Linked DNA regions of Homo sapiens. The protein of the gene in region 2 purifies or fractionates together with the protein of the main gene of each other region. This does not show direct contact. Each region holds a gene or a part of one and is shown on either strand. Other genes may lie near its edges.

Region 1 (8,376 bases), on a different chromosome or scaffold from region 2:
TGCTCCACGTTGACGTCATCTTTTTTTTTCTCCTCTCCTGAACCTAATTATCTCTGAGACAGTGATTCAAGGAAGAAAGGAGAAGTAAACGCTATCTGGAGGCCTGACTCTTCCATCCTGGTTCCCACACCTCTCTCTTTGGAACTCACTTCTCCAAGCTCTTTGCCAGGTCTGTCTCTTCTAAGCACAAATGTTAGTAAGTCCCAAACCCATTTTACTAATATTAGTAGATCGAGAGCCCATCTTTATAACTTTGGCCTCAATAAGACTAGTGATAGTGTCACTCTATTTACGAGGGGAAAGGTAGTTGCCACGATGCTCTTCGGTTTAGGGGCAATTAAAATGACTACAGATTGGTGGCAGTTTATGGATTTGCACAAGAAGAGAGAACTCACAGAACTAGCATTATTTTACCCTCTGTCTTCACAGAGGTATATTTGGCTGTTTTGTTAGACATTCTGGGGACAAGAAAAAATGAAAAAAGAAAAACATGACTACAGAGGTAGAGGAATTATTACAAGAAGGGTAATCAAAAAACATGATTTACAATTCAATCCTGAGAGAGGGGTATGTACTGAAAAAGCTTTAACACATGAAGGAAAGGGGAAGAAAGGTACCTAACAAATTTTTGAGTACCTCCTATGTGTTAAACACTCTACAGTGGTCTTTTGCTTTTATTATCTCATTTAATCTGTACAACACTATAAGGATACAGCTACTGGATACTGATGCTTACAGAAATTAAATAATTGCTCAAAGTCACAGCTAAAAAGTGGAAAACCAGGGATTCGAATCCAGGTCCAAATGACTCTGCTTTAGTGAAGCTCATCCGGTTGCAAGAGATATCCAGCATAAGTGAAGGGAGGTTCACTGAAGGGAGGTTCACAAACTGAGAGTAAGAATTGAAACTATCTGGGAAAGCCAAAAACAGAGGCAGACTACAAGCTGCAAGGCAGCTCGGACTTCAAGACAGCTCCAGGAACGTCACCAGCAAACACACACCCACGGGGTTCACTCTCCTGCTCAGCCAGGTGCCGGATACAGCCACAATCTCACTCCCTCAGCGCACTCGGTTTCTGCTTATCCCAAACTTTCGCTTACACGTGGCCTCATCAGCCCCTGGACCTTTCAGCTTCAGCTCCCACTGCCAAGTAAAAAGTCTTCATGTCTCCTCGTTCTGAATCCCAAGACAAAAAGCTGACCAGCAGCTCCTCTCAAGACAGAGCACTGGTCAGCCTGAGACTGGTCAGGCTCCCAGCCTCATCTACTCAGCTCGGGCCTTGCACTTGCTGCTCCCCTTGGCCTGGAGAAGGAGTCCTCCTCAATATCCAGGCTTTGGCTCACCTCCTCAGAGAAGCCTCTCCGGCTGTCTGGCCGCTGGACAGTGGTCAAACACCACCCCCACTCCTCACCCCCTAGCTTGCTCTAAGTCACTTTTAAAAAATCACATTACTCTGTATTTAATTTATTCATAGCTCTTAGCACCATCTGAACCTATTTATTCTTCCTCACTGGAATATACGTTCCATAAATAGAGGAACCTTGTCTGTCTTGCTCTTCTCTGGCTCCAGGACTCAGAACTAGGTGCTTCGACACCTCATAGGCATTCAACAAAAATCTGATGAACGAATGAGTAGCCAGCCAGACATCGGGGCTGTAAGTGAAGGTTTCTCTTCCGAGGCTGGGTAACGGAGGTCCCATGACTTGAATACCTATTAGTTAAATGGCCAGTTCTTTAATGGTTTCAAACCGTTTTCAGATAACCCCACAAAAACCCTGTGTGGTATTTTTATAAGCTCTATTTTATAGAGAAAGAAACTGAGACTCAGTAAACTTATATGACTTGCCCAAGGTCACTCAGCAAGTGCTTGAACTCAGGATTTGAACCACATCTGCCAGACCCCCAAGCCACCTGAAACTTTCTATCTCCTCACTTTTCCTCCCACCAGGATAAGTGGGATAAAAAAGACAGACTTGGTTACCAAACTCTAGAATGACAACACTAAACAATACAGAAGAAACGTAAGTATTATTTCACTTCCCCATCAGTGGTAATTATGGATCTCATTATTCCAGAAGCAGCACAGGCTAAATCATAGAGGTTTAGATAAATCTGAGTATAACGGATTCACTAAGCCCTATTAAAAACATTTGCAGTGACTTGTTCAGCCCTCTTCAGGTTGGCTGTGTGGAGGACAACCATCACCTCCCAGTGCCAAGGCACACACCAGGACAGCAAAGCTCACGCTCATAAAACGAGGTTAGAGTTGTGAAAGCACTTCAGGAACATATTAGTTCTTAACGTGTTCATTTTCTTCAGTCCCCAATTATCACTCATTACTGAGTACAGACTATTGTTGTGGGCTCAGTTGTGTCCTCCCCACATTGATCTTGGACATCCCAAGCCTCTGGGACTGTGAGAAAACACATTTCTGTGTCTAAGCCACCCAGTTTATGGTATTTTGTCATGGCAGCCGGGGCTGACCAAGACAACTATGTGGCAGGTACTATCTACCGTATGGCCCTAAAATGTTTTAACTTCACACACCTGGAAAGCACCACAGCCCCAAGAAAAAAGCTTTTCCGCACTGCTGTTAAGCCAGGGCCACACACTGCAGTACTGCGGTGCTCCACCAGCTGGAGGATGGCCTGGCCCATAATACCCGCATTCCCACCTTGCTCTGGCCCTGTGTCCCCTCCAACGTGCATCCTGAGCTCGCACCCTGTGTGGAACCCAAACAGCTGCTTATCAGCATTTAAGTCCATTTTTATGACACTTCCGTCAACAATCTGGTCAAGTGCACTCATTCCTGGCCTCCGTACTGTACCCTGCTCCGCCTCGATTCCCGCCCTGGGGGAAGCTAGACTCATGCAGCTAACTTTATCGGCTCTGGGCTCTGATTGCCAAGTTTAGGATCCCAGCTGTATCCTTGCTAAAGTTAGCATCGCTGGGGCTCAGTTTCCGTAAGAGACAGGTGGGTTACAAGCGCTCACTCACTGTTGCAGTGTCTTATCTACGTAAGATAATCCATGAAAAGCTCAACACAGCTGGGCCAAATCTAAGACCCAGACACGCGGCTGCTGTTAATGCCCACTTCTGCGCACCGCCCAGTTCCACCGCAGGCACAACCTTCCTAGGCCTACCCGTCCCCACACAGGGGTTCCCGCTTGTCAATCACGCTGGCCCGGCCCTCCACTTCCGGAATGTTTTCCCGCTCCGGACGGGCCACCCACCTTTGCAAATAGGGGTCCGGCGCCGGAACAGACGCCCAGTTTGCGATTTCACCAGTCTGCCCTTCCTCGTCCCGCTGCTCCTCGTCCTAAGGAGCTCTGCTGCCACACAGCACTGCGCTCACCTTCTTCGCCGGCAGAATTGCTACGCTGAAAGCCAGGCCCCGGGAATCAGGGCAAACGCCACTGAGTTAGAAACTGGCGGGTCCCCTCAGTGAAAGGCAGCCGGAACAACCCCCGCCGCTGCGCATGCGCACTCCGGGACGCGCGCGAACACGCAGCAGCGAGAATCTACAGGGGCGTGGTTTGCGCACGCGGGAACTGGGATCTCAACCCCAGGGCTAGGTGCCTCCTCCCGCTGCTTTCCGCCAGCTGCGGGGTGTGAGATTAATCCCCGCCGATTAGCGCCAGGTGTACTAAGCGCTGGATGGTTCCCTGACCAGATGAAACATCAGCCGATGTTCTAATGCCGGTCCCCTGGGCGCTGTCCCCGAGAGGGAAAACCTGTTTTCTGACCCCGGCTCTAGTCGGCCTCTGGAGGTCTGCAGCTGGGTTATTTTACCTTTGAAACGGACGACACCTGCCCCGTGCACCCCAGCGGCTCCTCCACACGGAGAGATGGTGTCAGTCAAAGGCCGTCTAGATGACGAGTTTATGAAATTGTTCCTGGCCCGTGCCGGGCACGACCTTGCAGAGAGCCCAGAAGATGAAACCCCAGCCCTGCCAGGAGCTCACCTGCTAATTAGGAGGACAACGAATCACCTCACCTCCCTAGACTTTGCTTCTCCTTTATTCAGTGAGGGATTGGACTAGCTGGTCCTTGAGGACTTTTCAGAAAGTCTGGTTCTGGGAGATGACCAATGGGATCATCTTATGCTATGAGCTTTCCTGGAATGACAGGTAATTGGTGCGCCTTCCCAGCAGGGTCAGGGAGAGTTGCTGGGACTTGAAGGAAAGGCTTTTGGGGAGAGGAGCCAGTGTTACAAACTATCGAAAAGCTTGGAGGTGGGAAATTTACAAAAGGTGATTCCAGGGTCAGCTTTTTTGTCACCTGCTTCCGACTTCGGCAGTTTGGAGAGGGCGAGTAAGTAATACCCTTCAGGGTCTTGGGATGTGGCCCAGCAAAATCCTTAGAGGGACTTTGAAGTCTTAGTTTTAAGTTTAGAATTAATGGGCAGAGTACTTAAATAGCCATTTCTCCAAAGATGTATACAAATGGCCCACAGGCCCATAAAAATGTTGCATTCCACCCTATAACATGTTTTTGCATAAAAAAGTTTTAAAATAACTGTTGTCTGGTAAATTGACACCTCTGGAATAGAATGTATGCTAGGTTTTTTACCCTACTGCTTCAAACCCCATCCTACACACACACTCCTAGGGTGTGCATCATCCAGTTTAAGAAGCACCCTTGGAGAAACAAAGTTGATAGTGTGTCCAGAATTGATGGGTTCTTGGTCTCACTAACGCAAGACTGAAGCTGCAGACCCTCGCGGTGTTAGTTTTTAAAGGCGGTGTGTCTGGAGTTTGTTCCCTCAGATGTTCCGATGGGTTTGGAGTTTTTTCCTTCTGGTGGGTTTGTGGTCTTGCTGGCTCAGGAGTGAAGCTGCAGACCTTCGCCTGAGTGTTACAGCTTTTAAGACGGCATGTACTGGAGTTGCTAGTTCACCCCGGTGGGTTCGTGTATCTCACTAGCTTCAGGAGTGAAGCTGCAGACATTTGCAGTGAGTGTTACAGCTCATAAAGGCAGTGCAGACCTAAAAAACAAAAAGAACAAAGCTTCCATACTGTGGTAAGAAAATCCTAGTGAGTTACTGCTGCTGTCTTAGGGCAGCCTGTGTTTATTCTCTTCTCTGGCCCCACCCACATCCTGCTGATTGGTCCATTTTAGAGAGAGCTGATTGGTCTGTTTTACAGAGAGCTGATTGAGCCGTTTTGACAGGGTGCTGATTGGTGCGTTTATAATCCCTGAGCTAGACACAAAAGTTCTCCAGGTCACCACTAGATTAGCGAGATACACAGTGTCGATTGGTGTATTTACAAACCGTGAGCTAGACACAGAGTGCTGATTGGTGCATTTACAAACTTTGAGCTAGATACAGAGTGCCGATTGGTGCATTCACAATCCCTTAGCTAGACAAAGGTTCTCCAAGTCCCCACCAGATTAACTAGATACACAGTGCCGATTGGTTCATTCACAAACCCTGAGCTAGACACAGGGTGCTGATTGGTGTGTTTGCAAACCTTGAGCTAGATACAGAGTGCCCATTGGTGTATTTACAATCCCTTAGCTAGACATAAAGGTTCTCCAAGTCCCCACTAGACTTAGGAACTCAGCTGGCTTCACCAAGTGGATGCGGCAGCGGGCAGCAGGTGGAGCTGCCTGCCAATCCCGCGCTGTGCACCGGCACTCCTCAGCCCTTTGGGGGTTGATGGGACTGGGCACCGCGGATTAGGGGGCGGCGCTCGTCGGGGAGGCTCCGGCCGCGTAGGAGCCCATGGCTGGGGCGCCGGCAGGCGGCTCAGTCATGGCGGGCTGCTCAGTCATGGTGGGCTGCAGGTCCCGAGCCCTGCCCCGCGGGGAGGCAGCTAAGGCCCGGCGAGAAATGGAGCACGGCAGCTGCTGGCCCAGGTACTAAACCCCTCACTGCCCGGGGCTGGCGGGCCGGCTGCTCCGATTGCGGGGCCCGCCGAGCCCACGCCCACCGGGAACTCGCGCTGGCCCGCAAGCGCCGAGCGCAGCCCCGGTTCCCGCCTGCGCCTCTCCCTCCACACCTCCCTGCAAGCTGAGGGAGCTGGCTCCGGCCTTGGCCAGCCCAGAAAGGGGCTCCTACAGTGCAGCTGCGGGCTGAGGGGCTCCTCAAGCGCGGCCAGAGTGGGTGCCAAGGCCGAGGAGGCGCCAAGAGCGAGCCAGGGCTGCGAGGGCTGCCAGCAGGCTGTCACCTCTCAATAGGACGTGAAGGTCGGTCGGGGTCTGGTTGTAGAAGGCTTTAAACAACAAGCTAATAAATTTATACTTCACACTGTAGACAAGTTGCAAGTCACTGAAACATTTTTAAACAGAGGAGTGGATTTGCAAATGCAGTGTCTTGGAAATATTAAGCTGGAAGCAGTGTGAAGGATGGTTTGGTGGGGAGAGACCAGAAGCAAGCAGCCAAGTTGGGTTGTGCAGTAAACCAGGCAGTGCAGTAGAGGCTTGGACCTCAAGAGTGACAATAGACATGGAGAGGACAAAGGCCGTACCCACCAGGCTGTAAATCTGCATTGTGTCCCTCCATCCTCCCCTCGCTTCTGCCCTGGAGGCTTATATTTAGAGAGCTGTACTCCTAACGTGAGGCCCTGGGCTTTGTCTCAAAGGTAAAGGCAAAAGTTCCTTATGTGGACTACCTCTGCATTTGTTATTAAACAGCCTTAGATGATGCCATTAATTGAATGAACTCAGAGGCCTTCTTGATAAACTCTCAAAACTCAGGGCTTAGGAAGAAAAGTGCTTGTACTAATGTAGAAATATTTTCTATAACCGGACAGTGAGAGCTGTAGAAACCCATTATGCATTCTTCTTTGCCTTCACTGCTAGTGATCTCAGGGCTAAATATTGCACATTGTTTTAGTTTTCTTTGGCAAGCATTTTTTAATTTTGTTGTTGTTGTTCTCATTCCTTCTTGCTAATTTTAAGTGCATGTTCTAATAAAGTCTGACTGCCTGGTGGGCAGATCACGAGGTCTGGAGATCGAGACCATCCTGGCTAACATGGTGAAACCCCGTCTCTACTAAAAATACAAAAAAAAAAAAAATTAGCCGGGCGTGGTGGTGGGCGCCTGTAGTCCCAGCTACTTGGGAGGCTGAGGCAGGAGAATGGCGTGAACCTGGGAGGCGGAGCTTGCAGTGAGCCGAGATCACGGCACTGCACTCCAGCCTGGGTGACAGAGCGAGACTCCGTCTCAAAAAAAAAAAAACAAAAAAAAACAGTCTGACTGCCTGGATCCAGATATTCCCCACTCCACCATTCAACTGGCTGGATGACCTTGGCCTATGACTTAAGCCTTCTGAGTCTCTGCTTTTCTCACGAATAAAATAAAGATAATAATAGGACCTATGTTCTAGAATTCTTATGAGATAAATGAGATAATCCTGGTAACATAAAGGGCTTAACATCTTACTTGTCATTGTGGAAGCTTAACAAATGGTAGCTATTACTGATATGAATTGGGTTTGGTTTCAGCGTTCCTCTGCTTTTATTATAAATTTCCTTAGATCCTCTTCTAGAAGGAGAGCATGTAGGAGGTACAAGTTTGTTTTCAACAAGCAATTCTCTTGGGAACTAAGAGTGAGAACTGAGTCACTTCTGCCATAAGGGCAGCAAGCCTTTCATGAGGGATGTACCCCCATGGTCCAAACATTGCCCACCAGACGCCACCTCCAACACTGGAAATCAGATTTCAACATGAGACTTAGGCCAAACAAACCACATCCAAACTGGAACACCTAGGTAGTGGGAAAGGCTCATGAAATGTGCCTGTGCTATAAGAGAAAACATTATCAGAGACTAGATTGTTCTGTCCCCAAAACCCTATATGCCTCACTCTGGAACAGCGCAAGATGCACCCTAATAATATTTACTTCTCTGAACCCCAGTTTCTTGGATTATTATGTCTATCTTGATATATTACTTTAGCTCATTAAGCCACACCGTAGTGGGGGTGGGACATGGTGTTTCTTCACATAATAGGTTGATGTACTTAGTCAAACTAAATTTTCAGTGGTGTTTGAAAATGGGGGGACTAGAACTCAGGAAGGTGGTAAAAGCTGGATATATGGATTTGATCACCCCTGGGAAACAACAACAACAACAAAAAACATCTAAACTAAAGCTGTGGAGGTAGTAAGATTACTGAAAGGAAAAGTTTCCAAAAGGAAGGAGGTATCCACATATAAAAGAATGAAGTAGGATCCTTGTCTTATACAATATATCCAAATTAACTTAAGATGGATTTTCTAAAGTTAAAATGAAGTTAAAATTAAAAATTAAAGTTAAAAGCTATAAAACTATAAAACTGGTAGAAGAAAACAGAGGGGAAAAGCTTTATGACATTGCATTTGGCAATGATTCCTTGGCTATGACACCAAAAAGCACAGGCAACAAAA
Region 2 (7,768 bases):
ATGCAGATAAATGCATACAACAGTACTAATAGAAAGCAGTCAATAAATGTTAGCTACTATTATATCTGGAACTTGGAAATTTTTAAAATATATCATTTAATATTTAATAGTCTACTTTTCCATTACTCCTTACTTGCATTACTAAATTCACTTCTAAATGAAAGTGAAACATTCGATTATAGTTTGATTCTAAAAATTTCTTACATATCATTTCTTATAATATCAATAACCAGTAATATGGGAGAATGTGAGTGTATAAATCTGTATAAAACAATGGTGCTGTGGAAATAAAACGGGTATTGAAATCTGGGGGTCGGTTCTACTAATTAAAAGTCACTTAAGTGAACAAAATCCATGTTATATGATTTCTCTAAACCTAAGTTTTCTCATCTGCAAAACAGGGTGCTACTTAATTTATAGTATTACTAAGGAGTAAATGATAAAAGCATATGTATAACTCCTGGTATATTGTTTGATATCTACTAGAATATCCATTACTTACATACATACATATATGCATGCATGTGTATAAAATGCCAAATCTAACATTCATTTCACAGATGCATAACACTATGAGTGAATTTAACTGATCAGAAAATACATATATTTAGTATTAATTAAGATCCTATACTTCACTAATATTTAATTTAAGAGTTCCAGTAAGTCAAGATAATTACTGAAAAGGTTTATCAGCAGAAGTAAAATATATACTGAAAGACATAAATGACTGGAGTTTTTCCAAGTTCCTAACGTGTACAAAGTTGTGAGGTTTCTTGGGTAATTTGGATTTTTTTTAATTTCCCTGTCTCTAACTTAAATACAGATCATCTAAAAATAACCACAGATTTTAGTAGTAAAAGAAGGGAAACACATTTATCAAACTTACCCTTAAAATATCAGTCTTCAACTGCAATTCCGTCGGTGGGGCTGAATGCATTAGCCCCAGGAGAGTGCCCATGTCATCGTCCCCATTTGGGGAGAGCACCAGCTGTTGGATAGTCATCAAGGCATGCTGCCGGCATTGAGGGTACTTTACTATATTATGTGCACATCTTGCACCTCCAAATTCTCGAAAAATTCCTTGAAGGAAGGAGAAAAAGTCCAACAATGGCTACTTTAAAATATTCTGAGACAAGTCAGATGAATTAACATTCAGTTATTTTTTGTAGGTAAAGTAACTCATAATAATGTAAATAAAACCTACCCAACTATTTCACCTTTTAAATTACAATACAAATTTGCACAGTGGGTTGTCAGCAAAGGTATATGCAAATTTTCTCTACATTTCCTTAATGCAAGATTAATGCCGTGATATGTTCACCATGTCCAAGCTCTCAAAATCTAGAACATTCACAAGTCTCTTAGGCAGACCCTAGGAGACTCTCTATTGTAATCAACTTATGTAAAAGGCTTTCAGAGGAACAATAGCCTAAATAAAGGAGATTTAAATGAACATGGCTTCCAAAATAGTAGCAAGAAAGGAATGGAATAAATTATTCCACCATGGGAAAAATTACAAGGAACCAACATGTTTTGTTGCACAGGTAGAGCATAAGAACAAAAAGTGACAAATTCTGTAACAGAAGTATGTGTCATTGTTACTGCTCCAAAGCCTTTACACAGATTGACTTACTTAATACTCATCCCCTACCATATAGAGGTAAGGCGGTCAAAGTCATACAGCTAGTAAGCAACAGAAAAGGATGTATGCCTACATAGCCCAGCTCTGTAAGCCTGTGCTCCTGCTCACAAGTGATACTGTTCTCACATCAAATATTAATATCATCCTCCAGTATTAAAAAAATGGGCCCAGTGACTGAAATCACTAATTAGTATTTCCTCTAAGTAATTCTTCTATCCCTTACGTTTTTAGGGCATCTTGTTTATATCTCTATTATGGTTTATAACAAACAGTCTTACTATTATTGCTTATGTTTGGTCTTCCATGACTACTGGATTTTCTCCTGATTTGTGTTTCAATAAACGTTTACTAAAACAGTGTATTCTGCTATAGCAGCCACTGTCCTCTCTGCTTAGTGGCTTTCTATTTGTTAACTTTATAAAAATTATAAGATCATGAAGTCAGTCTAAGCCATGTGCTTGAGATTCAGCACATGGAATTTGTGACATCCTTTCATTACCTGAAGGCCTGTTTAGTTACCTCCTGGTTGTCAGTTAGGACCCACTAGATAATCATAATGGCTAATATTATTTAAATACTTAAACTATGAGTAAAGTACTGTTTTAAATGCCTAACATCACACAGCTAGTAACATCTTTCATACTGGGAAAAGAAAAACTGAAAAGAATTGTATGAAATTGTTTGGCACTTTGGGATATGTACTAAGTGACTTTTAGTCGTGCAGAGTAAGCTCTCCAATTGTCCAATCTCTTCCTGTGCAACTTCTAGGTCGTCTCAAGGAAAGCTAATTTGCTAAGCAAATTCCTGTTAGTCTATCTTCATTATGTTTCTGATTATCTCAGTTAACTAAACCTAGTTAGTGGAAATAAGATTATGCATTATGCCATAGACAAAATGTTACTATAGTATCCACTAAAATTCATCATACTCATTGTTTCAATTACCTGTTAAATTCATTCAAGTCTATCTTAGCATTTGCCAAATTTGTATCAGACTAATTACTTCTATAATTATGTGTCTACATTTTTCTTCACTAGATTCTAATTCCCAGGGAGCAAGAATGATCTTACCTTAGCATCTAGGTGTTAGAATAATCTAACACCTAGCTAGCATGGTACCTGGGATACACAATATATTTTAAATATGATGAATGCTGAGTTTCCCTGCATTCAGGCAAACAGTCATGCATTTGGGCATGGGGTTCATTCATCCATGGCTTTCCATAACACTTAAAATATATTTCAAGCTCCTTACCATGGCCTAAAAAGCTCCCTATGATTTGAGCCCAGCCTACTAATCTGAACTCATTATTCCTCTCAAGTTGTACTGAACTTATTACCTGAGAGTTGTTTGATGTTAATTAAAATCTCAAGTAATCTTTTTTAAAAAGCAAGAGTGATATTTTATAAATATAGTTAGGTTATCTGTTAATGACAGGTAGAAAAGTATAAAAGAGAAATTGAGACCAAAATTAAACAAAATATTTAGTAAAGTTAATTAACCTTGGAGAGATTACGTTTTATTAGAGAATCATTGTTCAGTATTTCCTGAAGGTTGTAACATTATAATACTCTAACTTGTAGTACTAAAAATATTCTTTAAATCACTGTGTAAAGAAAATATTTTAGAAAGAATTTAAATAGCAACTTATTTGAGTAAGAGTGTATCAATAAAAAATTAGAAGAATACTTTCAACACAAGACACTATAAAAAGCAATTTAAACATCATTTTGAAATAGTAACAATCTTATATGTTTTGTCATCAAGGTGCTCCTGATGGTCAAAAGCACTGCATTTTTAGGGACATGACGGGTACCATCACTGAATCAATAGTTTTTTCTCTAAAGTGACAGGAAGATTTCAGAAGCAAGAATAACCACAGAAGATGTAATCAGTGGTAATCTCCCAAAGTATTTGCTTGCAGCTTTTTAAATTACCTGCATTTGTGTTTGATCCTTGAAGAAGCACTGTCAAGGTCTCCATAACCAATAAAGCCAGGTGTTTTTGGTCTTCAACTGAACTATTATTTCTTGAGTCCCCTAAAAAAAGGTTCAAAGGTCCAAATTACAAAAGTGATAAGCTTATTTTTTCTTGATTCCGTTTTACTGTAATAATTTCTTTATTTCTTCAGTATTCAGTTTTACCCCTAATAGGACAGATATAATATAATCTTTAAAACGATGCATGCATCCAACATTTGGCAAAAGTAGGCTCAAAATCAATATTAACAGATTTTATTTCGGTATGCTTGCAAGTGGCCGTTATCCAATAAATATTAAAAATGAAAATGCAAAGGTTAAATATATCCTCTTCACAGAGGGTTTTCCTAATAAAGGATGTCAACAGGAGAACGCTAGATTTTGATACACCAAAAAGAGAGAAAAGTTCATGAATAAAGCTATCTATTCAACCTGTATTAATTCACATTTAATACTTATTAATTGCCAGATACTACTGTACTTTTATCAGATTTATCAGAGAGGTACCCAATGATAATACATTGTGTATATAACATCATTAAATATACGTATTTGCTCTGTACAATAAAAACACATTGAAGTAACTATACATTTAACTATATTTATTAGTTGTAATTAATAACAAATCTGATTATTTTCAGAAGCTTTTAAAGCTCGCTCTTAGAAGCACAAGGCAGTAGATACTAGTCATGTGGATCATACATGTTTTCCCTCAGTTTTTACCTTCCTTTAAACTCTCTCCAATACACTCACATAATTCTAGCTTCCTCCTCCTCAATTACCTAACAGAGGTTGAATGAACCTGTAAATTTTGGAAAATACAGTTCACTAATATGTCACAATAATGCACATTAGGAAGTCATTGAAATCAATAACCAAAGAATGGGAACAAGAACAAAAAATTCTCTGTTTTGAACCCCTTTTCAAATAAAAATAAAATTACAGACAATACTTTACCTTGTTCATTTAGTGCCTGAGTTGGATCCTTCAACAGGGCAGCATATTTATGCAAAAGGTTTACCATGACCTCCAAAAGGCCAACCTCCCTGAACACGTCTTTAAATATGTAGTCATGTCTTGTAAACTTAAGAAGTGTTTTCATTGCAATAATGCTACAGTGATAAGAAGAGCTAGATTTTAAGAGGATACTGACACTAATAAGTTCTTTACAAGGTATATAATTTAAGCTAAAAACAACAAACTCCAGCATCTCAAAGTATTTGTTTTGTACTTCTGGGAGTTTAGAAATCTTCTCTGCAAACTGTGACAATGTGTGCTGTGACTCTAGGATGAAGTAATTGGCATTGTCAGCCATGTAAATATTTGTGATAGCATCAAGGATGATTTGGGCAAGGAAGCTGGTTTTTGCTTTTAAAAATGCATTCTGAAGAACTGCAAAGGCCTGGACGTTTCTCACACTGTGACCTAGAACAGAAAAGAAAAACATAAAAGTAGGTACTATGTGATATTTTAATGATGGCAAACTAGTCTGTTTAAACACATCATGAATTATAACATTTATCAATTATTTACTAAGAACATAACCCTGTTTTCACAAAAGGTCTTATTTTTCTTCATCAGGTTCAAATCATTTAATTAAAAATAACAATGATTAAAACTTTAATGCATTATTATGAATATTTCAATTCAAAAATAGTGTATGTTGAAAAGTTAGACTGTTTTAGAGGGAATAAAAGCATATTATTATAAACATCCATGCTTCAGAGTTTAGAGTGGTAGTTTTATTATCTATGAGATTGATTTTGACTATAAGGACAGCTGTCTCTCAATTTAAAAAGACTTTGAGGCTGAAGAAGTTACAGGCCTGAGAGCAGCAATAATGAAGCAGGAAAACAGGAGGGGAAAATTTTTCTAAATTCCAGTTTTCCTTTATAATTAGAACACTGTGATTTTTATAAATTTTAAGCTGGAAGTTTGTTTTGTTTTCTAGCTAACAGTACAATTTCTTCATATAGACATTTGTTAAAGTAATTTATGGCCAGCTATTCAAACGTACCAAATGGGGAAAAAAAAACTTTATACATGGCTCTGGTGAGGCAAATTAGTGACAATAATTATAAAGAAATTAAGACAGAAAGTTCTATTTGAAGTACATGAAAATAAGCAGCTTGCCTGTAAAAGGAGTCCCCAGAACAATACCTATTAGGAGTATATGGCATTTCCAAGTATGACCAAAAAATTAACATAGTGTCTGACAGAATAAGCTGGATTTCAGAAAGAGTATAAACCAGAGAACTACCAAAATTAGTAAATGGAGCAGAAAGAACACTCAGGGCTGGGGGCAGTAGCTCACACCGGTAGTCCTAGCACTTTGGGAAGACTGCCTGAGGCCAGGAGTTCTAGACTAGCCTGGGTAACATAGCAAGACCACCTCCATTTCTACAAGAGATTTAAAAAAAAATTTAGCTGGGGATGGTGGCATGTGCCTGTAGTTCTAGCTACTCAGGAGGCTGAGGCAGGAGGCTGAGGCAGGAGGATTGCTTGAGCCCAGGAGTTTGAGGTTGCAGTGGGCTATGATCACACCACTGCACTTCAGCCTGGGCGACAGAAAGCAATCCTGTCTGTAAAATAAACAAACAAACAAACAAAAAAGAATGCTCAGAAATCTTGACTTCGACATTTCTTAAAAACACAGGAAATTTAAAAAATCTCCAGCCTATATATGATTTCAATTCTCTAATTTCTTGTTTATTACATGTATGGCAAATACCAAAAATTTATCTTTGTTTCCTGTGTCTATCAGTCTATCTAAGTTTGTTTTTTGGTTACCTACATAATATAAAAAGTAAAGATGTCTGGAAAAGAATAATCAACATCTCAGCAGCTTTTCAAAAAAATAGTTCATGTGATTATTAATTTATATGGAAAATCAAAAGACTTAGAATAGCCAATATGATTCTGAGAAGAAAGAACAAAACTGGACAACTTAAGTGACCTGATTTTAAGGCTTATTATAAAGCTACAGCAATCAAGACAGTGTGGTATTGGCTTAAGGACAGGTACATGGATCAATCAAACAAAATTCAGAAAGTGTCTCAGATATATGTAGTCATATATGATATTTTCAACAAAGGGTCTTGGCACATTCAGATACCCATATTAAAAAAGAAATCCTTACTTTCTACCCTCTATGATAATAACTTAAAATGTACCATAGACCTTAATTTAAAAGTTAAAATATGAAACACTGGATAAAGAAAAAATCAGAAGAAAACATTAGAGATCTTTGTGAATCTGAAGTAAAGATTTCTTCAATAGGAGAAAAACAATCACAAAATATTATTAAAATGAAAAACTGGACTTCATCAAAATTTAAAACTTCCATTTCTCAAAAGATGCGTTAAAAAAAAACCAGCAAGTCAAAACTAAGAGAACACACTTCCAAAATACATATTAAGGGATAAAGAACTTATACAGAATATCTAAAGAACTCTTATAACTCCAGTAAAACAACCCTATCAAACAATGGGCTCAGAGATCTGAACCAAGGTAGAGAAACAGATGGTGACAAAGCACATAAAAAATGCAAAACTTCATTAGTCAATTATAAAAATGAAAATTAAAATAACAATTAGACATTATTACATACTTAGTAGAATGTCTAAAATTAAAAGGACTAACAATACCAAGTGTTACTGACAGCGTCAAGCAACTGGAACTGACATTACTGATGTGAATGCAAAAATTGGACAGCCACTTTAGAAGATACTCTGGCAGTTTCTTGTAAAGTTAAACATACATTTACCATATGATCTAGCACTTTAACTACTCTGTATTTAGCTAAAAGAAATGAAAACGTATGTCCACAGAAAGATTTGTTTTATATAAATGTCCACTGTAGCTTTATTCCTGATAGTCAAATAAATGTCCATCAACTGGTGAAGAGATACACAAATTGTGGACTATCCAAACAATGAAATAATACCCAGCATTAAAAAGGAACAAACTTCTGATACATGCAATAACATAGGTGATTCTCCAAAGTATTACAATATTCTCCCCATTTTCATGGTTTTATTTTCTGTGGTTTCAGTTACCCATGGTTAATTACAGTCTGAAAACATTACATACAATAAGATATTCTGAGACAGAGTGCTCATGCTCTTAAGAGAGAGCACACATTTAC
Region 3 (8,000 bases), on a different chromosome or scaffold from region 2:
TCATCTTCATTCCCACAACATAATAGGAAGTTTTCTGAAGTATAATTTTCTTTGATGGGAAGAAAGGAGATAATTAATCAGTTTAAGTAAAATCAATTACAAAGCTTGAATATTAACATTGAAAGGGCACATGCTATGGTGAAATAACTGGAAATGTAAAGGCTACAAGAAAAATTTATCTATTTGTTCTATCCCAATTTTACTATTTAGCAGTAATTCACTGCTAAAAAATCTGTAGAAATACAAATAATGAAAATGTATCAGAAAAATACTTAAATCTACAACCCTGTAGATAGACAATCGTAATGTTTAAATATTGAAGTCTTTTAAAAAAGGAATCTATTTCCTTAGGAAAATCCTAACTTGGAATTTGACTTTTAAAAGGAAGGCTTTATAAGTGTACCATACTTTATTTATTTATTTATTTATTTATGACGCAGAGTTTCCCTCTGTCGCCCAGGCTGGAGTGCAGTGGCACAATCTTGGCTCACTGCAACCTCCACTTCCCAAGTTCAAGCTATTCTCCTGCCTCAGCCTCCCAAGGAGCTGAGACTACAGGCGTACGCCACCACTCCCGGCTAATTTTTGTATTTTTAGTAAAGACCAGGGTTTCACCATGTTGGCCAGGCCGGTCTCAAACTCCTGACCTCAAGTGATCACCCACCTTGGCCTCCCAAAGTGCTGGGATTCCAGGCGTAAGCCACCGCGCCCGGCCAAGAGTACTGTACTTTAAAAAGTCATTTTATCTAATAATAAAAATAAAATTAATAATAATGATAAAGTCATTTTATCGCCACACACAAAAAAAGATGGTAATTATGTGACATGATGGATATGTTAATTAACTTGATTGTATATGAAGTTATCAAGTCCTACACCTTAAATATAACAATTTTTAATTGTCAATTATACCCCAATAAAACTGGGAGGGAAAGTCATTTTTTAAAAAAAACCATCACTAATTCAAACATTACCAATGTGGATTTTGCTGCTTCCTGAATGCAAAGCCAGGATTAGCACTGTAGTATAGAAGAGCTGAATAACAGTGTAAAGGTCTACTAAGGGTAAAGGCCAATAAATTAGTTCTTTGCAAACATTTTCAAGTTTCGATACTTTCAAAAAGTATTTTCAAGTACTTAGAAAACCACTTTTAAAGGAAGTCATTCCAAAAATGTCCTATTTTAAGAGTATATATTATCATATCTAAAATATTATTTAAGATAAAGAACTCCCTGTATGTATACATACACATTTGAAAAACTGTAATTCAGGCTTTCTAATATAGTCAGTGAACCCTTCAATTCCCCTAGACCCAATACACAAATTCCATTTCCATTAGGGAGTTGGAGTAGGAGGGGGAAAAGCAGGTATATGGTTTTGTTATATTTTAATTAACTCGTTTGTAGATATAGCTGAAGTAACTGAACCAAAAGAAAACACTAAAATATAGAACTATATACAAGTACTTAAACTGTCCAACTGAGATAAAGGACCAAATTATAAATGTATCCATGCAAAACAATGTTAACGTTTGTTTTATTAAGCTAAAATTAAGTTCTTTCTCCGCAAATAAATTCTAAAAGAAATACTGCACACTTTTTTTGGTAAATAGTTTTAAAAACCAGACTCCAGCTATGTTCAATTTTAAAATGATTAATCACCACTCTAGGTACTTATCCTACAACAAATGCACAGAAGCTTGTAGAATGATGTTCATTAAAATGCTGTAAGGGCGAACGTCTACTTAAAGAAGAAAGGTTGAGTACCCTATGGTACTTCATAATGTTACCTACTATGTAATAATTTAAAAGACAGAATCAATCTATTTTTACTGCCATGGAAAGATCTCCAAAATGTGGAGAAGTGAAAACAATGTTTACAATATGACACCATGCACTCAGGTGTCTCTCTCATACACACACAAACACACACACACCCCAGCATTTGTACATGTACATATGTACTTGTAAGAATGCAAACAAAAAGGTCTGGAAGAATATTCAGAAAACAGAAAATATTATTTCTAAGGGTGGCGGAGTGAAATTGAATGGGAGGGATCAAAGGGATTTTTGCTTCATTTTTATTGAGTTTTTATAAACAAAATGTATTCGTATTTTACTTGAGACACTAAAAAGAATTAAAAAATTGCATGCTAACTTTTCTTAAATAATTTACAAACCAGAACTGTTGGTTGTAATGAGATTTCATTTTCTTCTCTTTACTTGAAATCAAAAACAAATGAGAGCAACAAACACTTTTTAACTAGCAAGTGGCAAAACTGGAAAGAAAAAAATTTTATGATGTTGTTTGCCGTATCTCCAAATAGAAAGAAAGAGTAATGAAGAGTATACAGGAAGAAACAAAAAAGACCTTTACTAAGTACGTCCATTTTTAAGAAACCAAACTTTTTAGTTGACTCGGGCGTGACCTAGAATCCTCAAAAAAAAAATGTTATGCAAAACGAAAAAAGTGGAATACTGTTCCCCCAAGTACTGAAGGTTGTTTTTAGAAAGCTTAACTACGAAACTGTAAATGCCAAGTGTGTTTTCCAGGGGTGGGAAGAGGAACGTGAAACCCTACACCACCTTTAAGCGGTCAAAACGAACTGAAGAGCAGAGTGGAACTGGGAGAGCGCGCGGGGGTGGGGAGAGCTCAGCTATCACTTTTAGGTTTTGGCTCAGCGCCGCAAAAACAGTTTACACGGATTCTGTCTGGAGCGTGAAGTCCCTGAGGGTGGTCAACGCGTCGCAGCCGACACCTAAACCCTCTGGAGATTGAAGGAGAGGGTGGGCAACAACTTAGGTTCTTCGGCTGAGCGGGGAAAGCGCGCTGGAAAAGAGCAAAAGAGCTAACTTTTGCTCTAAACGCGGCAGCTCCTGGAGGTTCCGCAAGTCTCCCGAGTCCCAACCCATCAGCGACCCCAACACCTTTACAAGCCAGTACCTTCTGCCCACGGCCCGGCCCTCCGAGAAAAACCCAGCAAGGGCGGCGGCTGGCAGCATGCACAGGGGGCTTGACTGGGGGAGGCACCGGCACGGAATTCGGCAACCAAGGCCCCACCCAACACCCCAGAGTCTCCGGGCGCCCCCACCGAGACGCCGTCCCACCTCCAACAGACCCGGCAGCGTGCCCCCTCCCCCACTCTAGGCGGCGACCTCAGCGCCTCCGCCCCGGGGCCCCCGCTCACCCAGGTAGCGACTCCGCAGCCGGGACGGGTCCTCCAGCCCGAGGGACCTTTTCCTCACGTCCCACAACAGGTGTGGGTAGGAGCCACCCCGAGACATGGCTCTGCCTGAGCCGGGTGGGAGGGGAGACCACCGCGTGGGGGAGGGGAGGAGGGGGAGGGGACACCCGTTTCAACACCCGAGCCGCACCGGCACCATCCGCGCGCCGGGCCTCCAGGGCGCAGCGTTAGATGGCGGTGGCAGCAGCGGCGCCTGGGCCCCTGAAGCCCGGCCGCACCCGGGCCGGAGCTCGCCTCATACTCTCCTTCTTAGACTAACCAGAACATCCAAAGATCAGCAACAGTCTCCTCCCTCAGCCCCCCTCCAACAGGAGGAGGCGGAGGCGGAGGCGATGGCGACTCCTCCCTCTCCTCGTCCTGGATACCCTCCCCGCCAACCCTTTCTCGCGAGATGACGACCACCCTGGGGACTGAGGCTGGTGTGTGCTGCGGCTGCCCTCACCCTGGAAGAATGCATTCGGGCCACTCTAACCAGATCCTTAAGTCGCTAGGGATAAAAGACGAGTAGAGAGAGAAGCTACTCAATTCTGTAGTCTCTCGCTCACGAGTCTCCAGTGAAAAGAAGCAAGAGAATTGTGCGGCATCATCTTTAGGCACTGAAGGCCCAAAAACCCATTTTAACTACGGGCCTGCTTAATCAAAGTGAAAGGGCAGTAGAACCAGCGCAGCTTCACTTTCCCTTCTCCAACATGGCCTCGAGGGCATGGGGAGAAGGAGGAGGTTTCCGCTCGACCCCGCCCGCGCCTCGGGGCGGGCCAATCATGGCGGGCAGCTCGGCCTGCGCAAGCGCGCTGCCAGCAGGGCGCAGCGCAGACTTGGTGAGGTGATTATTTTGGCACCTGTTGCCATGGCTCCTCCCTCTCTCCTGCCGGGGGCCGGAGGCGGACCGGGGGCTGGCAGTCGGCAGCCTCCGCCCCCTCAACCTTCGCGGGGCGCGGGCCGCAGCTTTTCGGTTCACAGCGGGCAGGGAAAGCCGCGGGAAGGGTACTCCAGGCGAGAGGCGGACGCGAGTCGTCGTGGCAGGAAAAGTGACTAGCTCCCCTTCGTTGTCAGCCAGGGACGAGAACACAGCCACGCTCCCACCCGGCTGCCAACGATCCCTCGGCGGCGATGTCGGCCGCCGGTGCCCGAGGCCTGCGGGCCACCTACCACCGGCTCCTCGATAAAGTGGAGCTGATGCTGCCCGAGAAATTGAGGCCGTTGTACAACCATCCAGCAGGTAATGGACCCTGAATGGCTCCTTATCGAGACCTTCCTTCTCGCTTCCTCTAAAATGGACCTTTTAGAGGCCCTCTGACAACTGCCTCTAGAGGCATCCACAGCCCCAATCCCTTCCCTTCAAGTGAAGCCGTCTACTCTCCTAGCCTGTGCATTTCACCCTCTCTCCTGCAACATCTCTTCCTAAGCCAACGTATCTCAAGTCAGCTCCCTTCCCCACCTATGTGACATCCGCTCCCTTACGCACGACTCCAACCCAAACCTGATCTCCAGATTTGAGCCTTCTCAACTTCTGCGGCCACCAAACTGTCTGGGGCCACCATGAAACACTCATTCTCTTTCTCTTTTCGAATTGTGGCATATTAACCCACTCTAGGCAGAGCTGGATGGGTGGTTTGTCGCACTGTAGGGTTTGGAGTAAAGGTCACTTTCTTCAGCTGCTGCTGGCAGAGGCCTGCAGACTGAGCCCTCCCCCAAACTGCATGCTTTACTTCATCCAGGCTTGAGTCAGTGTCATTTCTCATCCCATAGGTCCAGTGTGTTTTTTTAAGTCTATCCTTATTTATGAAATTGTTGAACAAGCTCTACCCAGAGCTTTTTGTGTGGACAGACCTGGATATCATTCTCTTCTACCACTTATAGTTGTGACCTTGAGCAAAAGCCTAGATCTCTGTTTGTGTAATACGCGGTCTATGAGAATGACAGATAACATATGTGCTTGACTCTTTGTAAATGCTCAGTAAACGTTACATCTCTCTTTGCCTACTGGAAAACTGTGTTCTTGTGGTTGAAAAAAAAAACTGTAAGAAACTGAAAGATTCCAATCCCTTTATTAAAGATCTAGAATTCTGTTACCTCTTCTATAAAGTGAGTTGTAATAATACTTATTTGCTAGGGGCTAACATCAGATATATTCTGAGGTCTGTTTCAAGCCTAAGACTTGGCAAACTAGAAAATGTGTTGTAAATTGAAAGACTGAAGTGCTACCCGAAAAGTGGCTTTTATTCTCCTACATAGTTAAAATCTGTATTCTGTAGTTGGTATCATTAGGAAAGTTGTCTAGTTCCCCCATTATCTGATTATGAACCAGCTCTCTGGAGTCTGAACTGGTTACTAAATCTGATTTCCAGTTTGATAATGGAATGAATTGAACATCTGGATTATACTCTAACCCTTAATATTATTTACTGCAACATTGAACCCATTATAAAACTGATCATTAAGGACAGTTTGTTACTGATTTAAAAAGTTTTTGTTTATTTGCCTTTTAGTTCTTTTAACATTCAATTTTTTTGGAATTATGCTGTGTTTTGTGGCAAAGATTTTCGGGAAGGAGGGTTGAGCTATGCTTTTTGTAATAATCTGGGCTTTACAGAGTCAACTGAATGTGAAGTCAACCCTGACCTTCATAAGCTTTGTGTTTTAGCTGTAGGATAAGGGCATGACAGAGTAAGAGTAATTTTAAACTACTTAAAATAATACAAAATTGGAGGGTAGTCTTACCTTGATCCTTTCCAAGCCTTTAGTTTTTAGCCACCTGTAATTACTGCTTAAAATACTACTCAGCTTTCAGAATGAAGAGGGATTACCTTTCACTTGCAGGATGTGCATTTCACCTGAAAATCCTTGGATTCGTTCAGTTATTTTAACCCCCTTTTTCAGTGTAGTAAAAGGAGCTAGGCTTTGAAGGGAAATAGACCTACGTTTCAGTCTTGGCTGTGTGACCTTGACCCTAAATTCCTGCCTTAGTTATCTCATCTATAAAATGGGAGTAATTGTAATCATTTCAGGATTGTTGTGAAAATCAGATGATCTAATGTCTCTAAAACATGTAGCACAGCGTTTGCACTTAGACTCTCAATAACTGTCAGTTCTAAAATTTGAGCAACATACAGAGTAAGGATATCTATTACAGCAGAATTATTTATGATCGACAAGTTGGAGGCACACCAGTGTAGAAATGGAGGAGCTTGAAAAATACGTTGACTGATGAGTATTGAATAAAATCTAAGGAAACACTGATTATTGTCTTAAGAGTTTATCCAGAGTGAATATTCAAGGATTTTGCATACTATTTTGCCTAACAGTATTTGTTATTGAATTGTCATTGAAACATTTTTCTAGATTCACCTACAAGGAGTTTATTAAATGATATGAAATGCTACAATATTAACAGTTGGAAATCATACATTGCTGATTCTAGATTTTTGAGATTTAATTTTATCACTGACACTGTATGTCTCGACAGGTAACAAGAATGTGTTTTTAGCCAGGCACGGTGGCTCACACCTGTAATCCCAGCACTTTGGGAGGCTGAGGTGGGTGGATCACCTGAGGTCAGGAGTTTGAGACCAGCCTGACCAACATGATGAAACCCTATCTCTACTAAAATACAAAAATTAGCCGGGTGTAGTGGCGGGTGCCAGTAATCTCAGCTACTTGGGAGGCTGAGGCGGGAGAATCACTTGAAACCAGGAGGTGGAGGTTGCAGTTAGCCAAGATCGTGCCATTGCACTCCAGCCTGGCAACAGAGCGAGGTTCTGTCTCAAAAAAAAAAAAAAAAACTAATGTGTTTTTATGTATAGATACATATTTTAGTTACAGTATTGCATCTCTGACCTGTGAGCCAGAATTTTGAGGCTCTCATTATCCATTTGCCTATGTGTTTTTGCTGGCATGTCATGATCTGCCACTGTAGAGAAGGAATAGAGTTCTAGCCAAATGTGTGTCCTGGTCAAGTTCCTCAACTCACAAAAAAGGATGTCAGTCCCCGCATTATCCCCCACCTGACTATAAAAATATGTGACTCCACCCTAGCCAGTTGCATAGCTGTACTCCAGTGTTTGTCAAAGAAATAATCTTGAAGTTATGTTGCCCAGTGTTATTTTTTCTTTTCTTTTCTTTTCTTTTTTTTTTTTTTTTTTTGAGACAGAGTCTTGCTCTGTTCCCTAGGTTGGAGTGCAGTGGTGTGATCTGGGCTCACTGCAACCTTGGCCTCCTGGGTTCAAGCGATTCTCCTGCCTCAGCCTCCTGAGTAGCTGGGATTACAGGCATGTGCCACCATGCTCAGCTAATTTTTGTGTTTTTAGTAGAGATGGGGTTTCCCCATGTTGGCCAGGCTGGTCTCAAACTCCTGACCTCAGGTGATCCACCTGCCTTGGCCTCCCAAAGTGCTGGGATTACAGGTGTGAGCAACCACACCCGGCCCAATGTTTTCTTAAAAGCTTAGTTAAGGAAAACAAAAAAATTATCAGTGGAGGAGTGTCATTTATTTGTATTTGTGAGTTCCAAAATGGGGTAAGTCATCCCAAGGGGTGCACACAATGAAACACTGGAATGTAGGAAGAAAATTATAGAACTTCCAGTAACGTTTACTGTTATTTCATCCACTTAAATTTTTCATTGTGTATACATTCTGTAATACAAAAATATATTATTGCAGTAATTCTATATAATTTATAAATATATAAATGATTTATAAACAGGATGTATACTCAAATTGTTTTTTACTGATAGGGCATATGTTCAAGAGGAGCTG
Region 4 (7,768 bases), on a different chromosome or scaffold from region 2:
TTGTTATCTGAACCTCAGAACATTGACAATGGTCGGAGTGGATACTTTCTCAATTCTCACAAGGATGGTACATAACTAGTGCCATCCTACATTGGAGAAAAGTTAATTATTTACATATAACAAATGTCCAAATGTCTTTGGGCATTTGGGTTTATTCTCTTATGAAACCCAGTTGAAAGAAAAAAAGAAACTATACTATACTACTATTATTCCATTATTATTATTCCATTACTACTATTGGGAATAATTTAAAATGAGAGACATTTCTGCATAGCAAAAGAACAATTAACAAAATGAAAACGTAGCCTACGGATTTGGAGAAAATATTTGCAAATTATGTATCTGTTAATATCCAAAATGCGTAAGGAACTCACACAACGCAATAGCAAAAAACAAAAATGAATAACCTGATTTTAAGACGGGCAAATGACTTGAATAGATATTTCTCCAAATAGGACATAAAAATGCCTCAACATCACTAATCATCAGGGAAACACAAATCAAAAAATCAAAACCACAATGAGGTATCACCTGACACCTGTGAGGATGGCAATTATCAAAGAGACAAGAGATAAGTGTTGATGAGGGAGTGGGGAAAAGGGAATATTTGAACACTGTTGGTGGAAATGTAAATTGGAACCGCCATTATGGAAAACAGTATGTAGGTTTCTCAAAAAATTAAAAAGGGCTGGGCGCAGTTGCTCACGCCTATAATCCCAGCACTTTGGGAGGCCGAGGTGGGCAGATCACAAGGTCAGGAGATGGAGACCATCCTGGCTAACACAGTGAAACCCCATCTCTACTAAAAATACAAAAAAATTAGCCGGGTGTGGTGGCAGGCACCTGTAGTCCCAGCTACTTAGGAGGCCAAGGCAGGAGAATCACTTGAACCCGGGAGGCAGAGGTTGCAGTGAGCTGAGATCATGCCACTGTACTCCAGCCTGGGCAACAGAGTGAGACTCCATCTCAAAAAAAAAAAAAAAATTAAAAAGAAAACCACCATATGATCCAGCAATCTCTCTTCTCGGTTTTAACCCAAAAGAAATAAAAGCAGCACCTCTGAGAGAGAGCTGCACTCCCATGTTCACTGCAGCATTATTCACACTAACTCAGATATGGAACCAACCTACACGTCTGTCAGTGGATGGCTCTATAAAGAAATTGTGATACAAACACACTCTGGAATAGTATTCAGCTTTCAAAAAGGAGATCCTGCCATTTACAACAAAACAAATGAAACTGGAGGACACTGTCTTAAGTGACACAAGTCAGACGTAGGAAAAAAAAAAAACACTAAATGATCTCTTCTATATGTGGAATCTTAAAAAAAAAAAAGTCAAATACATAGAAACAGAGACTAGAACAGTGGCTAGGAGAGTAGGGGAGATGCAGGTCAAGGGAACAAAGTTGCAGTTATGTAGGATGAATAAATCTAGAGATCTAAAATATAGCATGAGGGCTGGGCACGGTGGCTAATGCCTGTAATCAATCCCAGCACTGTGGGAGGCCGAGGCAGGGAGATCACTTGAGGCCGGGAGTTCGAGAGCAGTCTGGCCAACTTGGCAAAACCCCATCTCCTCAAAAATACAAAAAATTAGCCAGGTGTGGCAGCACACACCCAGCTACTCCAATGGCTAAGGCATGAGAATCACCTGAACCCAAGGTGGAGGTTACAGTGAACGCAGATCATGCCATTGCACCCCAGCCTAGGTGACAGAGCAAGACTCTGTCTCAAAAAATAAATAAAGTTAGCAAGAGCAATATAATTAATATTAGCATATTATATACCAGAAATTTTCTAAAAGTAGATTTTAAATGTTCCTAGCACATACAAAAAAAGTAACTATGTGAGATGATGGGTATCTTAAATTGCTTACATACAGCAATCATTTCACTATGTATATCAAAACATCATGTGTACACATTAAATTTATACAATAAATAAGTAAGTAAGCCTGAAATAAACAAATAAAATGAGAGAGAAGAGACTGGTGAACAATATGTTACCATCCTGTGACTTTTGTGGGCTTATTTTGTAATCAGTAAAATGAAGTATTATTTGAAGTTTTTATAGCAGCAAAGGTGATTGTACTTTAAGACTATCCCAGGCCTTTACTGGTTCCATTCACAATCAGCACTCAGCATCTATTTTCCTGGGAACATCAGTTCATTAGAAAACCACGAAAAAAAAGAAAAATAATAATTTTTTTTTTTTTGAGATGGAGTCTCGTTCTTGTCCCCCAGGCTGAGTATAGCGGTGGGTCTCAGCTCACTGCAACCTCCACCTCCTGGGTTCAAGTGATTCTCCTGCCTCAGCCTCCCGAGTAGCTGGGATTACAGGCACCCGCCACCATGCTCAGTTAATTTTTGTTTTTTTAGTAGAGACGGGGTTTCACCATGTTGGCCAGGCTGGTCTCAAACTCCTGACCTCAGGTGATCCACCCACCTCAGCCTCCCAAAGTGCTGGAACTAACAGGTGTGAGCCACCACGCCCGGCCAAATAATAATTTCTTAAAAAGAAAACGAATGGAATATAAACTCATCAAGTGCCAGAATCTTTGATTTTCAATTAATGTGTTCCAAGCACCTGGAGCAGCACTCTTTCTGGGAATGAACCTAAATTTCCAGTGTTGCTGGGCAGCACTTGTTACCCTAAAAGATGGGGATTTCTTCATGTTGTCTTGGTTTTTTGGCACCGCTAAAATCTAATAGGATTGCCCTAACCCAGAACTTTAAACTCGCGGTTTAATTTTCATTACGACTGCCCTTCTTCCTTATGGAACTATGACAGGTTCCAAGATACTGCCATTACTGGTCCAAATAACTACCATACCATGGGTATCAATACGTACTGTATATACCGTTCAAAATAACTATGTACAATGTGAACCAGTAACTACCATATCACATATTCTAGCCTAAGAAATATTCTTAGAATTTCAGTTATCCTCTGTTAAACCCCAAAAGTATTTTAGAGCACAGGTACTATGAATCAATGTAGCACTTCCATTAAATGCAAAATGTTAAAATGAACAATCCTGACTAGGCCAGAACTAATGGACTTTACCTGCACATAATAAGCTACATGTATGAATGCAGTATTAGTGGACAATGTATTTCATTTTCAAGCTATAAGAACCAACCATCTGCAAGCATTAAGCACTCATCCACAAGGGGTCACCCGAATGACTACTATTCTTTTAATCACTTATCTCTGGTAAAAAAAAAAAAAAAAAAAAAAAAAAAAAAATATATATATATATATATATATATATATAAAGTATGACAACGTATTCTGTTGGTGCTTTCACACATTACTGGTGAGAATGCAAATTGGTATACTTGTGGAGGAAAATCTGGAATTTGGGAATATCTAACAAAACTACATGTGCACTTAACTTTTGAACCAGCAATCACACTTACAGAAATCTACCTTGAAGATACGGTTCTAACGATACCAAAATACTACGCGCAAGGCTATTTACATAAGAAACAACCTAAATGCCCATACATAGATGAATGGTTGAAGAGGTTAAGAAACATCTACACAGTCAAGTCACAGCTGTAAAAAAGAATAGGCTGGGTGCAGTGGCTCACGCCTATAATCCCAACACTTTGGAAGGCCAGTGTGAGAGGATCACTTGAGCCCAGGAATTCGAGACCAGCCTGGGCAACATGACAAAACCCCATCTCAAAAAATCAACAAATTAGCCAGGTATAGCGGTGCACACTTGTAGTCCCAGCTACTTGGGTGGCTGATGAAGGAGGATCGCTTAAGCCCAGGGGATTAAGGCCACAGTTTGAGCCATGATTGTACCACTGCACTCCAGCCTGAGCAACAGAGTGAGACTGTGTCTTAAAAAAAAAAAAGACCGAAGAAAATGAAAGGAATATCTCTTCAAAAGAATGACCTGATTTGGAGTCATTTCCAGGATATACTATTGAGTGAAAAAAAGTGCAAAAGAGTATAGTATACTCTCCACATAAAAAAGAAGGGAACAGGAAAACAATCTGGCAGTTGCTCAAAAAGTTAAACATACAGTAATCATATGACCCAGCAATTCCACTCCTAGGTATATATACCCATGAGAATTAAAAATATATGTCCACACAAAAAATTGTACATGAATGTACAAAACAGCATTATTCATAACAGCTAAGAAGTAGAAAACCAAATGTACCTCAACTGACGCATGAACAAAATGTAGTATATTCACATAACGGAATAACATTCAGTTATCAAAAGGAATGAAGTACTGATACATGCTACAACATGGATGAACCTTGACAAAATTATGCTAAGTGAAAGAAGCCAGGCACAAAACGCCACATATTATATGATCCATTAACACAAAACATCCAGAATAGGCAAACACACACAGACAGAAAGTAGACTGGGAAGCGGACCTGGGAAGTGACTGCTAATGGATACACAGTTTCTTTTGGGGGTGATGAAAGTGTTCCGGAATTAGATAGTTGTGATGGTTGCACCATCTTGTGAATATACTAGAAACCACTGAATTGTACACTTTAAAAGGGTGAGTTGTATGGTATGTGAATTGTATGGCAATAAGTAACTGTATCAGAAGAAAAGGAATATAAGAGAACACCCACATATATTTTCATTTGTGTAACAGAAATAAAGGAAGGGACAAACCAGAAACTAAAGAGACTATGTACCCACAGGGCATGGGCAAGAGGTAGAAACAAAGATGGAGGGATGGAAATGAGATAGTAAAAACAAGGAGAGAGTGACACTTTTCAGTACAACTTTTTTCCTTTTTTTTTTTTAAGACAAAGTTTTGCTCTTGTTGCCCAGGCTGCAGTGCAATGGCGTGATCTTGGCATACCGCAACCTCCGCCTCCCAGGTTCAAGTGATTCTCCTGCCTCAGACTCTTGGGTAGCTGGGATTACAGGCAAGCGCCACCACACCAAGCTAATTTTGTATTTTTAGTAGAGATGGGGTTTCTCCATGTTGGCCAGGCTGGTCTCAAACTCCCAACCTCAGGTGATCCGCCCTCCTCGGCCTCCCAAAGTGCTGGGATTACAGGCATGAGCCACCGCACCCAGCCCAGTACACCTTTTTATACAGTAGTGTTTAGTAGAAGCAGTGTTTAGTAACTATAATGTTTCATATGCCAAAAAATAATAATAATTAAAATCAACTAGGGTTGGAGGGAACCCAAAATGGAACAGTAACAATAACAAATGAACTTAATGCATTAGGGATGAATAAGATTAAACTAAAGGGAGTGGTAAAGAAAATAACTAACCTAAGTAACTTTGGAAAACTATTTTGACTAGATACTATAAGGCTAAAGCAAAAATAACTACATACAAATACACTAATTAGTAAATACATTTTTCACTAGGGTACAGGTTAGCAATCTGTAACCACTTCATGTGTATTCTAGAAGTCAACAAATAAGTGAGTATACTTACTCTATATCATGAAAGCCAGGTTTCTGACAGAGACAGAAGGAACGGGAGAAGGTTAGAATGAACTTTGTGGTACTGGATTAGAATAGGTGTCAATATGAACCCATGGTTTTAAATATATATAGAATACAGGCAGGGTACTGTGGCTCACGCATGGAATCCCAACACTCTGAGAGGCCAAGGTGGGAGAATAACTTGAGCTCAGGAGCTCAAGGCCAACCTGGGCAAAACAGCAGGACCTCGTCTCTACTAAAAATTAAAAAAAAATCAGCGGGGCATGGTGGGTGCACATCTGTAGTCCCAGCTACTTGGGAGGCTGAGGTGGAAGGATGGCTTAAGCCCAGGAGTTCAAGGCTGCAGTAAGCTATGATCACGCCACGGCACTGCAGCCTGGGTGACAGAGTGAGGCCCTGTCTCAAAAAAGAAAGAAACGTCAGTATGTGTGTGTGTGTGTGCACATATATGTTTATATAAATATATATATATATATATATACACACACACACATATATAAATAATATGTGTGCACATATATGTATGTGTGTGTGTGTGTGTGTATATATATATATATATATATATATATATATATAATATACTGATATATTTCCTAGTTCTGCCAACTGAAGTCCTGGGAGCAATAAAACTCCAATAAACATACCGAGTATACAGATTTTGATTTTAAATACTATTCTCCAATAAAAGAAACCAGAGCTCCTTGGAGAAGTAGTCGACTCCAGGACTGGTGCAAGGAAAAATAAGATGAGCATGGAACAGCCTGTGGCCCCAGAATATAAGAAAGTGCTTGAAAAAGGGTAGAGGCCAACCTGAAAGAGCTTCCAATGGCCAAAGCTGGAACAATTTGAACAACAAAATAAATAATGATAGTATTGGATTATAATCCATAGAAAATAGAGATCCCATAAGAACACACTAATATAAACAAATAATTGAATAAATAAGTGAGGGAAAGGGGACATCTCTCCCTTAAAGAATTCCAATTAATAAATGCAGAAGGAATGAGGGAAATACAAAATCATGATTAGCCAAACACCACAGTAATAACTGTTGCAGACAAGATCTACCAATGGATGTTAAAAATCAATGGGAGAAAGTTTGAGGAGAAACTGTACATCCACAGTCTCAAAGTGTCTCCCCCAAGATATGTATGAACAATAAAGGGAAGAATAGTAACTTTACTGTGAAGAATACCGCTAAGGGTTCAAAGTTAAAATACCACTAGCAAAAAGACATGTCAACACCATGTACCCCCAATATGATGCATTGAGAAGGACACAACATCGCTTCTGTAGTTTTCTTGCAAAACATGCTTAACCTCAATCAAATCATGAGAAAAAACATCAGACAAACCCAAAATGAAAGAAGTTCTAAAAAATAACAGTACTCATCAAAAATGTCAAGGTCGTGAAAAACAAAAACTGAGGAACTGTCAGAGATTGGAGGAAATGAAGAAGACACAACAACTAAATGCAACGTGGGAACCTAGATTAGACCCTAGAACAAAAAAAAAGGCATTAATGGGGAAAAACCAGTGAAATTAAGTAAAATCTATAGTCAATAGAGTTACACCAATGCTAACTTCTGGTTTTGATCACTGTATTATGGTTATGTAAGTTGTTAACATTAGGGGGAGCTTGGTGAAGAGTATGTAAGAACTCTGTACTCTCTCTGTAACTTTTCTGTAAGTCTAACATTATTTCTAAATAAATCATTAAAAATAAATAAAATCCATCAACCAATCATCTGATACAACTGTCATATCTTCTTGCTCAAGGATCTCATCTGAAATTTAACAGTCCCATTAATTTAGAGAGCCCGGTAGGCAACATCAGAACAAACTAAAATCATGAAAATCGGATCTGGCATCTAGTAAGTAAACAACTACTTTATGCTCTTTTTCACTTTTTGTAGTTAAAGAAAATGCTAGCAGATGTGACCTTCCTGGCTTTGCAAACTTCTCTGTAAATGATTTGACCAACTTTTTATGTTTTCAACATCATGATAATCTGCAATACATGCTCACAACAATGTATTTCATGTGTATGTTAAGCCAAAGTTGTGTAGACCTTTGTTGTTGTTTGTTTTGTTTTATTTTGCTTTTGAGATAGAGTCTCACTGTGTCTCCCAGGCTGGAGTAGAGTGGTGCAATCACAGCTCACTGCAGCCTCAATCTCCCAGGCTCAATTGATCCTCCCATCTCAGCCTCCCTAATAGCAGGAATTGCAGGTATGCACCACCACGTCCAGCAAATTTTTGTATTTACCATAGAGACAAGGTTTCACCATGTTGCCCAGACTGATCTTAAACTCC

Evidence for each region.
Region 1: the proteins of WDFY3 (region 2) and DDX11 purify together in Homo sapiens (affinity purification with mass spectrometry; 2 studies listed by BioGRID and IntAct, with this or other methods). This does not show direct contact.
Region 3: the proteins of WDFY3 (region 2) and DCAF6 purify together in Homo sapiens (affinity purification with mass spectrometry; 2 studies listed by BioGRID and IntAct, with this or other methods). This does not show direct contact.
Region 4: the proteins of WDFY3 (region 2) and HERC1 purify together in Homo sapiens (affinity purification with mass spectrometry; 2 studies listed by BioGRID and IntAct, with this or other methods). This does not show direct contact.

The regions. Positions count from the first base shown.
Region 1 is NC_000012.12:31,068,950-31,077,325, reverse strand, and holds the start of DDX11 (ATP-dependent DNA helicase DDX11), read right to left. Parts: upstream 3,467-8,376; 5' UTR 3,235-3,466; intron 3,062-3,234; exon of another isoform or gene 2,782-3,061; intron 1-2,781. UniProt on the Homo sapiens protein: DNA-dependent ATPase and ATP-dependent DNA helicase that participates in various functions in genomic stability, including DNA replication, DNA repair and heterochromatin organization as well as in ribosomal RNA synthesis.
Region 2 is NC_000004.12:84,816,506-84,824,273, forward strand, and holds part of WDFY3 (WD repeat and FYVE domain-containing protein 3), read right to left. Parts: intron 5,047-7,768; coding exon 4,579-5,046; intron 3,682-4,578; coding exon 3,580-3,681; intron 1,081-3,579; coding exon 887-1,080; intron 1-886. UniProt on the Homo sapiens protein: Required for selective macroautophagy (aggrephagy). Acts as an adapter protein by linking specific proteins destined for degradation to the core autophagic machinery members, such as the ATG5-ATG12-ATG16L E3-like ligase, SQSTM1 and LC3.
Region 3 is NC_000001.11:167,932,196-167,940,195, reverse strand, and holds the start of DCAF6 (DDB1- and CUL4-associated factor 6), read right to left. Parts: upstream 3,514-8,000; 5' UTR 3,285-3,513; coding exon 3,188-3,284; exon of another isoform or gene 3,124-3,187; intron 3,118-3,123; exon of another isoform or gene 2,944-3,117; intron 1-2,943. Other genes in the region: MPC2 (mitochondrial pyruvate carrier 2), read left to right, coding at 4,355-4,463. UniProt on the Homo sapiens protein: Ligand-dependent coactivator of nuclear receptors. Enhance transcriptional activity of the nuclear receptors NR3C1 and AR. May function as a substrate receptor for CUL4-DDB1 E3 ubiquitin-protein ligase complex.
Region 4 is NC_000015.10:63,823,566-63,831,333, forward strand, and holds part of HERC1 (probable E3 ubiquitin-protein ligase HERC1), read right to left. Parts: intron 1-7,768. UniProt on the Homo sapiens protein: Involved in membrane trafficking via some guanine nucleotide exchange factor (GEF) activity and its ability to bind clathrin. Acts as a GEF for Arf and Rab, by exchanging bound GDP for free GTP.